Homo sapiens: one gene and its partner. The protein of the gene in region 2 purifies or fractionates together with the protein of the main gene of each other region. This does not show direct contact. Each region holds a gene or a part of one and is shown on either strand. Other genes may lie near its edges. The genes, in order: COLGALT2 and CACNB4.

What was found.
Region 1: the proteins of CACNB4 (region 2) and COLGALT2 purify together in Homo sapiens (affinity purification with mass spectrometry; 2 studies listed by BioGRID and IntAct, with this or other methods). This does not show direct contact.

Annotation. Positions count from the first base shown.
Region 1 is NC_000001.11:183,943,582-183,950,881, forward strand, and holds part of COLGALT2 (procollagen galactosyltransferase 2), read right to left. Parts: intron 1,984-7,300; coding exon 1,851-1,983; intron 743-1,850; coding exon 615-742; intron 1-614. UniProt on the Homo sapiens protein: Beta-galactosyltransferase that transfers beta-galactose to hydroxylysine residues of collagen.
Region 2 is NC_000002.12:151,831,992-151,837,065, forward strand, and holds the end of CACNB4 (voltage-dependent L-type calcium channel subunit beta-4), read right to left. Parts: 3' UTR 780-5,074; downstream 1-779. UniProt on the Homo sapiens protein: The beta subunit of voltage-dependent calcium channels contributes to the function of the calcium channel by increasing peak calcium current, shifting the voltage dependencies of activation and inactivation, modulating G protein inhibition and controlling the alpha-1 subunit membrane targeting.

The DNA of each region.
Region 1 (7,300 bases), on a different chromosome or scaffold from region 2:
ACAAAGAACATTAACTAAATGTCAGCTCAGAGCCAGCACTCCCTTGGTGAGCCTGGTTTTCCTGCATCAGCCTCAGACCCTTCCCCAAATCTAGTTGTCCATGTTCTTCATGTTTGTGCAGCCCCATTTCCCAACAGAGGAGCTCCCTGGCTGACCCTCTAACCTCCCACCTTCTCGGAAGCTGCAGAGGCAACCTGCTGTCCCGGGAGCTGAGTCTTAAATATGACACAGGACTTTAGAGCTTGAATAAATGGCCTCTTCTCCAGCTTCACACCCACTCCATGTGCCACGTTAATTGAGGGTGGGATTTCTGCTGTGCTCCTAAGTAAGTGCTCAGTGCCACACCTTGGTTCTGTCTGAAGGTCCCTGATCTGCAGGCCGACTCCAGGTCTCAGACAATCTTCCACAGTTTCCCACCCTGAAGAGTAGAAGGATGCAAAATCCAGTGGCTAACCTCTACCCATTTTTATTTCTGAGAACATTTATGGAAAGAAAACTAGATAAGTGGAAGCTTAAGCTGTATCTCCTACTGGCTGTGGAGGTGGGGCTCTCTGCGCATTGGAAAGGACTGAGTGCCTCTCAGAGCCCTCTCGTAAGATCATCTTGTCACTCACATCAGTTCCCAGTCCAGCTGAGCCTGGTCAATGTTATCCATCAGCTTCATCAGCTTCTTCTTAAACTGATGCTCAAAACGCACATCGTCTTCAATTACAAGAGTCTTCTCTAGCTCTCGATCAATTACCTGCAAAAGTCATCAGTAGGAAGATACCCTATGAAAAGTTTGAAACCCAATTTTTATTAGATAAATAAGTATTAAAAAGTCACGAGTCTAGTAGCACAGATTCATAACTGGAATCTAAGCAAATGGCCATCAACAGTAGAATAGATAATAAACTTTGGAATATTCACAGCAGTGAGGATATATGATCACAATTAAACGCAACGTTATAGGTGAATCTCCTAAATGTCATGTTAGGAGAGTACACATACTGCATGATTCCATTCATATAAGGGAAAGTACAAACAAAGGTAAAGCTATTCAATGCCTTTAGAAGTCAGGATGGTGACTGCCCTTGGGGACTGATGACCAGAAGGCAGTACGGGGTGGGGGGGTGCTTGTGGGATGCTGGTTACCTGCTTCTGGATCTGTGTACTGATTAACATGGGTGTGTTGTTTGGTTTGTGAAATTTCCCTGAGCTGTATCTTTTGATCTATATCTTTTTATACCTATTTATCACATTTCACTTAAAGTTTAAAGAAAACAAAGGCAGGCATAGACTGGATCATTAAAAGAGAAAGTGTTCAAGGGGCCTTTCTTCAGGGACTTTCTTTTTGGTTGTGGAAACTGACTGTTTATCAGGAACCCCACACACCAATATCTGCTCCAGATATGTCTTGATCTGTAAGACAGGGGTTCCACTTCTGGCTCTGCCACTTCTTACCGGGTCAAGCTACTTAATAATTTCTTCTTCGGTAAAGGTGGTCTGTCCTTCCCAACCCACCTCACATGACTTCTGTGTGATTTCTTGTATAAAATCACTTAATAAGTGATGTCATAATAGGTATAATAGAAGGCATTCCTGCTAATGATGATAATGAATTAATAAGAGTGTGGCACACAGGACATGGGTGTCTCCCCCGTCACCACCCCAAGTGGCACCAAAGCTACTCCTCCTTGCCCCTTTGTTGCTGGTCTTGGGTCAGAGGGAGACACAAGGCAGGAGCAGCTCTCATGCACATTTCCAGAACAGTTGCGGGCTCACTTTACATCTGGCCCTAACTCACCTACGATAGCCTGCTTTCCTTTCTCCTCATCATAAAACTGCAATCTGAATAAAGCATTATTTACCTCTTTCCAGACTGAGTAGTGGCTGAGAAAGCAGCCGATTTCACCCCTTGTTAGAGGCCTGGAGGAATAGGGATCTCGATAGCCAGGCAGCATTTCAATATTCAGTGCCTTCAGCTGGCTTGTGTTGAGTGCCCTGCATCACATAAAACACGTCTGGAGATTAACAAGTCAAAGGTCCCCACCACAAAGGCCAGAGAAAGAGAGAGTTAGTTCTGCAAACACCCCTCCCCCACACAGACAAAGACAGAGAGGCTTCCCTTTATTCCTTAGAAGTTCCTCCAGGCTAATGTGTCACACTAGTATTATGAGGTCTGGGAAGACAAGAGGGTATCATATTTTTGTGTATCCCTCATAGTGCCCAACATAGTTCTAAGCATCATCAGTTTTTTGACAAGATTTAATAAGTACACTCCTATGGAAATTAGTTAAAGTACTGCAATAATCCAAGGAGTGTTTGATCAAGACCTACTGCTGAATCTCTGTTAACACAGTGAGCTTTGTGAAGTTCACAGCTGCCCTAATCCTAACCTGTTCACCCCAGCCCTACAAAAGCCTTGAAAACCAGTAGCCTCACAACTAAGAGAGCGGCAAACCCCACCAACCCAGAAGCCACTGGCAGGGACAAAATGGACTGAGACTCCCTTAAAGACCTGCCCCCAGAAAATAATCTCTATTCAACCTGTCTAGTAGCTCCTTGAAAAGCTACATTCTCAGAGCTTGTCTTGATTTGACCTGACTCAGAGTTCATTTTCTGTGAACAGCACTATCTGCAGGTCATTTGTCAAAACCCATGAGCAACAACTGTTTAACATTACAGCTGTTTGAGAAGCATTATCAGCTGATGCTAACAAGAAGCCCACCAAAAAACTTAAAAGGAAAAACCAAGGAATAAGAGGTCCATAGGGAGTTTGATTTGCTCCAAAATATCCCTGAGAATCTAGAAGGCCCCAGGCATATTCAGGGCTGTCCACACGCCCAGGAAAAACTTGAGAAGTCCCTAGTCTCTCACCTCTGGCTGACCTTAAGGATCTGGAAAAAAATGTAGTGAAGGCAAATGAATAAAACACTGCAATGAAGGAAGAATTTGGCATAGTAAGTTTTAAAAATTAATACAACCATGTGGTATCTATAAGAGGCAGCCTTTAGATTAAAAGACAAAAATAGGTTGAAAGTAAAAGAATAGAAAAAGATATACCATATAATCAGCAATGACAAGAGAGCTGGCAGAGCTATGCTAATATTGGGCAAAATAAATCTCAGACAAAATTCATGCTAGAGCCAAGGAAGGACATTTTTTAATGATAAAAAGGTTAATCTGGGCCGGGAGTGGTGGCTCACGCCTGTAATCCCACGACTTTGGGAGGCCGAGGTGGGCAGATCAGAAGGTCTGGAGATCGAGACCATCCTGGCTAACACGGTGAAACCCCATCTCTACTAAAAATACAAAAAATTAGCCGGCCATGGTGGTGGGTGCCTGTAGTCCCAGCTACTTGGGAGGCTGAGGCAGGAGAATGGTGTGAATCTGGGAGCTGGAGCTTGCAGTGAGCCAAGATCGTGCCATTGCACTGCAGCCTGGGTGACAGGGCAAGACTCCATCTCAAAAAAAAAAGGTCAATCCATCAGGAAGGCATAACAATTATAAATACATATGCACCTAACAGAACCTCAGAACCATGAAACTGGAAGAATTGAAAGGAGAAACAGACAATTCAACAATAATAGGGGAAGACATCAATATCCCACCTGCAATAATAGAACTAGGCAGGAGGAAGACAAGGAAACAGAAGACTTGAATAATATCTTAAAATAATCAGACCTAGCAGACATCTATAGAACATTCCACCCAACAATAGCCAAATACACACTTTCAAGTGTGCATAGAACATTCTCTAAGAAATACCATTTTTTAGACCATAAAGACCATATAGGTCATAAATTAAGTGTCAGTATACTTAAAAGGATTGAAATCACACAAGGTATGTTCTCCAACCTCAATGGTTTGAAATTAAAAATCAATAACCAAAGGAAACTTGGGAAATTCAGAAATGTGGAATTAAACAATACACTCCTAACCAATGGGTCAAAGAAGAAATTGCAAGGGAAATTAGAAAATATTTTGAGATGAATGAAAACACAGCATACCAAAACTTATGCGATACACTTAACATAGTACTTGGAGATATAGTTACAGCTGCAAATGTCTCTAGTAAAATAGAATATCTCAAATAATAATCCTCCCATCCATCTTAAGAAACTAGATAAAGAGAAAATTAAACCCAAAGCAAACAGGAGGAAGAAAATAATAAAGGTTACAGTACAAATAAATGAACTAGAGAATAGAAAAACAATAGAGAAAAATCAACAAAACCAAAAGTCAGTCCTCTGAAAAGATCAACAAAATTGACAATTATTTGCCTAAACTGATGAATTAAAAAAAAGTAAACTCAAACTATTAAAGTCAAGAATGAAAGAGGGGTCACTCCTACTGACCTTATGAAAGTAAAAAAGATTATATGATAATACTATGAACAATTGTATGGCAACAAATTAGATAACCTAGATGAAATGGACAAATTGATAGGAAGGTACAAACTACCAAAATTGACTCAAGAAGAAATAGAAAGTAAATAAATAACAAGAAAAGAAGTTTAATTAGTAATAAAAAAAATTTCCATAAAGAAAAGCCTAGAACCAGATGGCTTCACTAGGGGTTTCTGCCAAATGTTTAAAAATTGTTAACACGAATCTTTCACAAACTTCCAAAAAAAAAGAGGAGGAGGGAACACATCCCAGCTGATTTTATGAAGCCAATATTATTTTGATACAAAACCAAAAACATTATAAGAAAACTGCAGACCAATATCACTTATTAATATAGATGTGGAAATCTTCAAGCAAATACTAGCAAGAGAATCCAGCAATTTATAAAAGGAATTATACAGCATGACCAAATGGGTCCCAGGATTATCCCAGGGTTGCAAGTTTGGTTTAACATGTGAAAACCAATCAAAGTAACGTACCATATTAACAGGCAAAAGTCACATGTTCATCTTAATAGACACGGACAAACCATTTGACAAAATCCAATACCCTTTTATGATAAAAATACTCAACAAAATAGGACTAAAAGGGACCTTCCTCAACCCAGTAAAGGCCATCTGTGAAAAACCCACAATTAACATCATACTTAGCAGTGACGGACTGAATGCTTTCCCTCTAAGATCAGGAACAAATCAAGAAACTGCACTCAACAGTTCTATTCAACATTGTACTTGATGATCCAGCAAGGGTAGTTGGACATGAAGAAGAAATAAATGGTATCCAGGTTTGAAAGGAACATATAACACTATCTCTACTTGCATGTGACATGGTCTTGTATGTAGAAGATCCTAAGGAATATACACACACAAAGGAAAAAGTACTATTAGAACTGATAAAAAGGGTTCAGCAAGGTTGCAGGATACAGGATCAATATACAAAAATCAATTGTATTCTTATTCATTTAGCAATGAACAATCTGAAAATAGAACTAAGGAAATAGTTCCATGTACCATAGCATCAAAAGAGTAAAATACTTAGGAGTATATTTAACAAAATAAATGCAAGACTTGTATACTGAAAATGACAAAACATCATTCAAAGAACTAAAGAAGATCTAAATAATAAAAAGACATTCCATGATTACGAATCAGAAGACTTCATATTGTTAACACGGAAATATTCTCCCAGTTGATCTACAGACTCAATGCAATTCCTATCAAAATCCCAGCTGCCGTTTTCTTTATTTGTGGAACTTGACAAGCTAATTCTAAAATTCATATGGAAAAAGTAAGGGACCCAGAATAGCTGAGACAAACTCGAAAAAGAATAACAAAATTGAAGGACTCATACTTCTTAAATACAAAGCTACAGTCATCAAGACGGTATAGTACTGGCATAAGGATAGACATATAGATCAATCAAATAAAATAGAGAGTTCAGAAATAAATCCTTACATTTATGGGCAACTGGCTTTTTACAATGGTGCCAAGACAATTCTACGAGGGAAACGAAAGTCTTTTTAACAAATGGTGAAGGGACAAATGGATAACCATGTGCAAAAGAATGAATATGGATCCCTGCCTCATGCCATATACAAAAATTTACTCAACATAGATCAAATACCTAAATGTAATAGATAAAACTGTAGAACTCTCAGAAGAAAATTTCATGAAGTAAATCTTCATGGCTTTGAAATTGACAATGGATTCTTAGGTATGACACTAAAATTACTAGCAACAAGAACAAAAAATAAATTGGATTTCATCAAAATGAAAAACTCTTTTGCTTCAATGTATACCATCATGAAATTGTGACAATCAATAATGCATAAAGTTAAAGAAAATATTTGACAATTACATATCTGATAAAGGACTTGCATCCAGGATATATAAAGAACTCTCACTACTCAACTAGTTTCCCTGGTCCATGTGGTCTATGAATGGGACTGGTGTTCTTGGAGGTATTTGAAGCAGTGGTTCCTAAACTCTACTGCACCCAAGAATAGGGCTGACAGATTTAGGAAGTGAAAAACACAAAACACTCAGTCAAATTTAAGTTTCAGATAAATAATGGATAATTTTTTAGTATAACCAAGCCCCATGTGATGTTTGGGACAAATTTAACTGGCTATCCAGTATTTTATGGGGCAATCCTGTCTAAGAATCACCTTGAGGCTTCTTAAATGCAGATCCTGGGTCCAGCCTCAGAGAGCATAATTCAGCAGGTCTGAGATGGGACTGAGGGAGCTGTCCCCTTAACCATCCGTGGGGACTCTGATGTGAGTGTCCAGGTCACACTTTGGGAAACACTGATGAGATTCTCTAAGGGAGTCATAAAAACTTCAACAGCTGCTAGCCATACTCCTTAGTTGGAGTTATGCAAATAGAAAACAAAGCTACTGATATTCTAAACCAACATATAACATGGAAAGGCACATTTTATAAAAATCTATGCCTTGAAATAGTTTAGGGTGTCAAATAAAAGGGCAAAGCTGAACAAAATAAAAAAAAAAAAAAAGAAGGGATCTAACTAGGTTCCCTGTGTTACTTTCCTGCCATATTTCCAGGAAAAGTGGCCACTATGATCGGTCCAGGCAGATTGTGGCAGGCATCTCATGCAACAGGAAATGTACACCTTTATGCATTTTCCATCTATTTTCTTCAGATTGACCAAGTTTCAGCACTTTATGCTCTAATTCAGCTCTGAACACAATTCTGAACACATTCCTTCTGTTACACTACAGAAGGCTGAAAACCACCACAACTGTTGCAAGAACCCCCAGAGACGGGACAATCACATCCAATGTGAGCCTTCAGTGTAATGAAGACCAAAGACCACTGGCTGGTGAGTGGATTTCAGGCCTGCTCTACAGGATGAAATTAACTTAAATGCTACTACAGGTGGCCGTT
Region 2 (5,074 bases):
GGCTGAGGCAGGAGAATCGCTTGAACCCGGGAGGTGGAGCTTGCCGTGAGCCGAGATCGCACCAGTGCACTCCAGCCTGGGCAACAAGAGTGAAACTCCATCTCAGAAAGAAAAAAAAAAGAAAAATTCTTTTGAGAGAGAAGTTTCAGTGAACTTTGGTTTCCTCATTTGTATTTGTATCTCATAATCCATGCCCGGCCTACTTTCCTGGGTGATCAGATGAATTAAATGTGATAATTGTGAAATAACTTGACTCTAATAAATCACTGTATAATCCTAATGCAGTGATAAAAATCAACATAGTCCATATTTCTTTGGAATCTCCTATACAGTGAAATGACAAAAAAGTCAAATTCCAATCAAGTCTTAACATAGACAATTGACCCCAAATACATACTATGGAATTCTTACAGGTACAAGATAGCTTTGGAAATGTCTGATAACTGCAATATTAATCATTTTGGAGTGGATGACTTGCGAACAATATAATACTTCATCTAGTATATTTTTCTATATCCAATCCTATTTTGCACATGTATTCGAATGTATTTTATTTCACATGTGTGTGTATTTAACTTATAAACCCTTTCCTAATACAGTACTTATTTTGTGATCACTCACAGCACCTGGCAGAGTATTCAGAAAGTAGTCATTTGATTGAATCCCTTTTTAGGATAAATGTTTAGACTTTTTCTTTTTTTCATAAAAGAGTACCTATTGATTTCCAGTATTTCTTCAATATATTTCTAGAATAATATAAAGGAGAGGTATAACGCTGGTTTCAGTGTTTTTTTCATTTATTATATAAAAGAAAAAAAGTAATGCAGTTGTTTTGTACACATTTAAATTCCATAAAACAAATCCATAGAAATGAGGATACTCTATGCATGCACTCTGCATTTTCTTTGTTAATGTTTTTATTCACAAAAATAACACCACGTTTTTTTCTTTAAAGCCACTAAAGCAGAGGGAGAACAAAACATGCAGCACTGTACACATTTGCATAGTATATTTTACCCAGCATGCCTTGTAGAATGCTACACATACCTAGATAAGAAAAATAAAAGGGGACAAATTATTAAAATAAATAACTAAAATTTAAAGAAAGAAAAAAAATTATTTGACAAAGGCATTTTTTATCCCACTTTGTCAATGGAGATATAGCAATAGCCTGGGATTTCAACAGCCCTCAGAATAGTAGGAAAAATCTTTTTACATCATTTTGCCATATTTCTGTTTTAGTATGTTTTATGTTAATACATTTATTTTTTATTCCTTCCCACCATCCCTACAAAAACACAGCTAATGGCTTTAACTTATGTTTCAAAGTAGTATTCAGTACAAAACAAATTAAAGAATCCCTAACTAATATAATTTTTTGTGGTTGGGACATCTTTATTGATCATTCTGACTCGAGGCTGTGAAAAATACAAAAATCTCACACATGTCCAAAATTCAGAGGAGCCCTATGAGCTCACTTGCTGTGACTTTCTGCTGTTGTTATTGAAAGAGAAGAAATAAGAGGAGAAAATATGGTATGAGTGTTATCACAAAATAAAATTTAATAAATTTTATGGAAGGGAATAAAACAAAAGAAATTACATCCACAGATTGCAAGGCTATGAAATAAATTGCTGGAAAAGTATCAAGCAGCAAGTTAAAAAGATGGTAGATGAAGTAAATCTGACAAAACTTAGAACTAAATCGACATACTTTTAAAAAATATGACTGCCAAATTTAACGGTGGATTTTGTTATAAGTTTGTGCTATAACAAATGTGCTTCTTTCTCCTCAATCTATTTTTATATTATTGGCAAAATATATATTTTATAATTTTGTACTGTACAATATGTTTTTGCTACATTATTTTTCTACTGCTAATGCAGATTATAAGTAACAACATAGATTTATTTTGGCAATAAAATGCTTTCATTTTAATAACATCCCAGAAAATATTGTAAGGCATATGAAAAATAGTATGCAACGATATAGCGTTAATGATCCCGCCTCTTTATTACATCCCTTATGCATACAGAATTCACACTGATTTCAGTTAAAAGTCAAAGTGGCATGCAAGTAGGGCAAGGGTGGCCCCTACATAAATATAGACATAGCCATTTGTTGAGAAATTTAAGTGTTCAAAACATAACCAAGAACACTTATCAGGTATTGAAAAGCTAGAGGCCAGCCACTTCTGGTTCTTAGTTCCCCTTGTAACTCCTTATAATTTTCAAATGAGGAAGTATCAGTGTATTCTCCCAAACCACTCTAAATTCATTAGTAACATTTTCTACCATCCTTCTGCAAACATTTTACATACATCATGAGAAACAAAAGAAAGTTTCATATATAACTACGACTCCCCAAACCAATTGCTACTCACTCTTAATTATACTTTGTTTATGGCAAGTAGAAGTTACAGCCCTTAGGATTATCTGATGAGATACTTTCTAGTCTTCTCATAATGTCCCTCAATTACATGAAGCATTTAGAATTAATCATTACAAGTAAAAAGAGATAGCTGCTATCAGAGGATGTATTTTATTTAAGAAAGTCCATTTTAATAAAAGAAGAAACTTTTAAAAGTAATTTTTGAATGCTGTAGTTCTGGGTGCCCATATAAGCCAATTTTTCTATTTTGACTAACTTGACTGCTTAAGTCAAAAAGAAGGTTATCCTTATTGTCTGTCTAACAGCTAATTGGATTGACTTGACTGGTTTGATCATGATTATTTTAAAGAAGAGGACTGTTCTCTGCCCCATAGACACAGCTTGAGTAAGTAACTTACTAACAGTTATAGTATTGACAGTATTTAAAGGTATGAGAAACTAATAAAACAGATTTTATTACATAATTTCCTATAAATTTTTCATTCATACAGTCATTCAAGGATGAGTTTTATATAATTTAAAAAAACACAACATGCAACATTGTCATAAAAGACAAAGGCAGAAATGTAAAAGGAATAAGGGGTACATAGCATTTATTTGAAACATTGATATGAAGTTTATTCCAATTACATGGGAGTCCAAGATTATGCATATCCTTACCCAGTAAATGGCTAAGTCATGCTCTGTGGAAGTCAAGGACCAACAAAATGTGAATTTGCAAACCAGCTGCTCTTAAACATAAAGTCTTTGGACTTTTACTCCTTTAGACTTAGAACTAGATATTATAACAAGTTGCACACAAAGGCAATTCCCTTGCAGTTTGTTTTGTTCCCTATGATGACTTATTTGTTAAATTAACCTTGCCTCATGATAAACTGTGAACCAATTCAAAGAAAACTTCACTAACGTGGAAGAAATGAAAGGGTGCCAAACAGCATTTTGGAAACAGTTTAAAATCTAAAGGGAAGGCATATTTTAATAATCTATGTATTTAGCTTTGCAGCAAGGTTAGCCAGAATAGTGATAATTTTGATCACTACTTATTGACCAGTGTTTTTCCCTTTAAAGACAGATTGTCTTCTCTAGAGAAGAGGTAGTAAATATATCAGTACATAGGGTAATTTCTACAATGGTATTACATTTTTTAAGCAAATACCAAAATAAAACTGTGTAACTAAGAAAATATATACTAACATGCAAATTAAGGTTGCCAAGACACATTCTTAACGGACATCCTGGGTCTTAACAACATTTTGTGATATGTTCATTTAAAGAATTTAAATTTGCAAACCATCTTTTAGCATAATTTCCTTTTCTTACTTCCTTTCACTGCCTCCACTTCCTATTATGAATTTTAAGGCCCCCACACAAAAGACAAGTTCAAGTATGCAGGTATGAAAAGAGGTTAACATTCCAAAAATACATTTTGCAAACAACGACAATAATAATTAAATAGCAGATTATTTAAAGGAAACAAATAATTGTCTCAGAATTTGTTTTACATTAATAAAATTCATTTCATTAAAGACTAACTGCAATGACTTATATAGTCACAAAATTAAGACTCTTATTAGGAAAGACCATCATCTAAATTGTGAACAATTTCAACCTTCTCTCCAATAGAACTGTATAAAGATAAGAGAGAATCATCATTTATAAACATTTCTAAGTGTTGCTTTAAATATTAAACAAGATAATGTTGTTGGTTATAATATTAGAGTGACATTATACCCTTGAGAATTAACATCAGGATTGACAAATTGCATTCGTTTTTTTCCAGAACTACATTTCCACATTGTCACATGAGTCCACATTATTATATGTCTGTGACTGAAATTACAGAATTCTAGTATGTGGCTTATACTGTAAGTTAAAACAGCCTCAAAACAGTAAAAGACTTGTTTCTCTTGCTTATAATCATTTGCTATCTTTAAATGAAATTAATTAAAAACAAAGTATGGAGTATGTATTTTTCAAAGGTGCTTGGTGTGCTTGGCAAAAATAAAACTTTTCATTTAGTATATATCTAGATTTTAAGTATCATTTACACAATAAACTCTTAAGTCTTTAAAAAAAATAAGATGTATATCCCCTTATTTGAGGAAGATAAACTTATTACAGAAAGAAGGGGAAAGAATATTCCAAATTAAAGTAAACATTTAAATATATCCATCAATAAAATATACATTATACCCTTTCCAAGATTGTCAGCTTTTGAATAAGAATGCAAAGCAAAACAGGTATGGACATCTGATGGTAATTGATAGATTGGTTTTGTGCACAGATATTGAATGAGACTCTCTTTATCGGCATGACATGGAAGACTAAAAACAAGGCTTTGAAAAACCTTTAAAAACAAGTGACTTTTAAAAAGTTGAAAGAAGATGGTAATCTTGATGACTAGGAAATATATTTAAATGCTGTTACAGCTACCTGCCATAAAATGTAAGTATCTTAAAGTAGTTAAATGACCAAACTGCTAATGCTACTACAGAAAAAGCTGAACAGCTGTCTAGTCTAAATTTGTACACCTTGGTGCACTCTTTGCAATTAAATACTTTAATGCGCATAAACAAGAAACCAGTAAAGCATATAGAAAAATGTTTTGGCTAATGTTTTCTTTCTCATGCAAGTATGTGCTGTACATGTAATAAATATATTTTTGTTTGCTGGAAGATGCTCT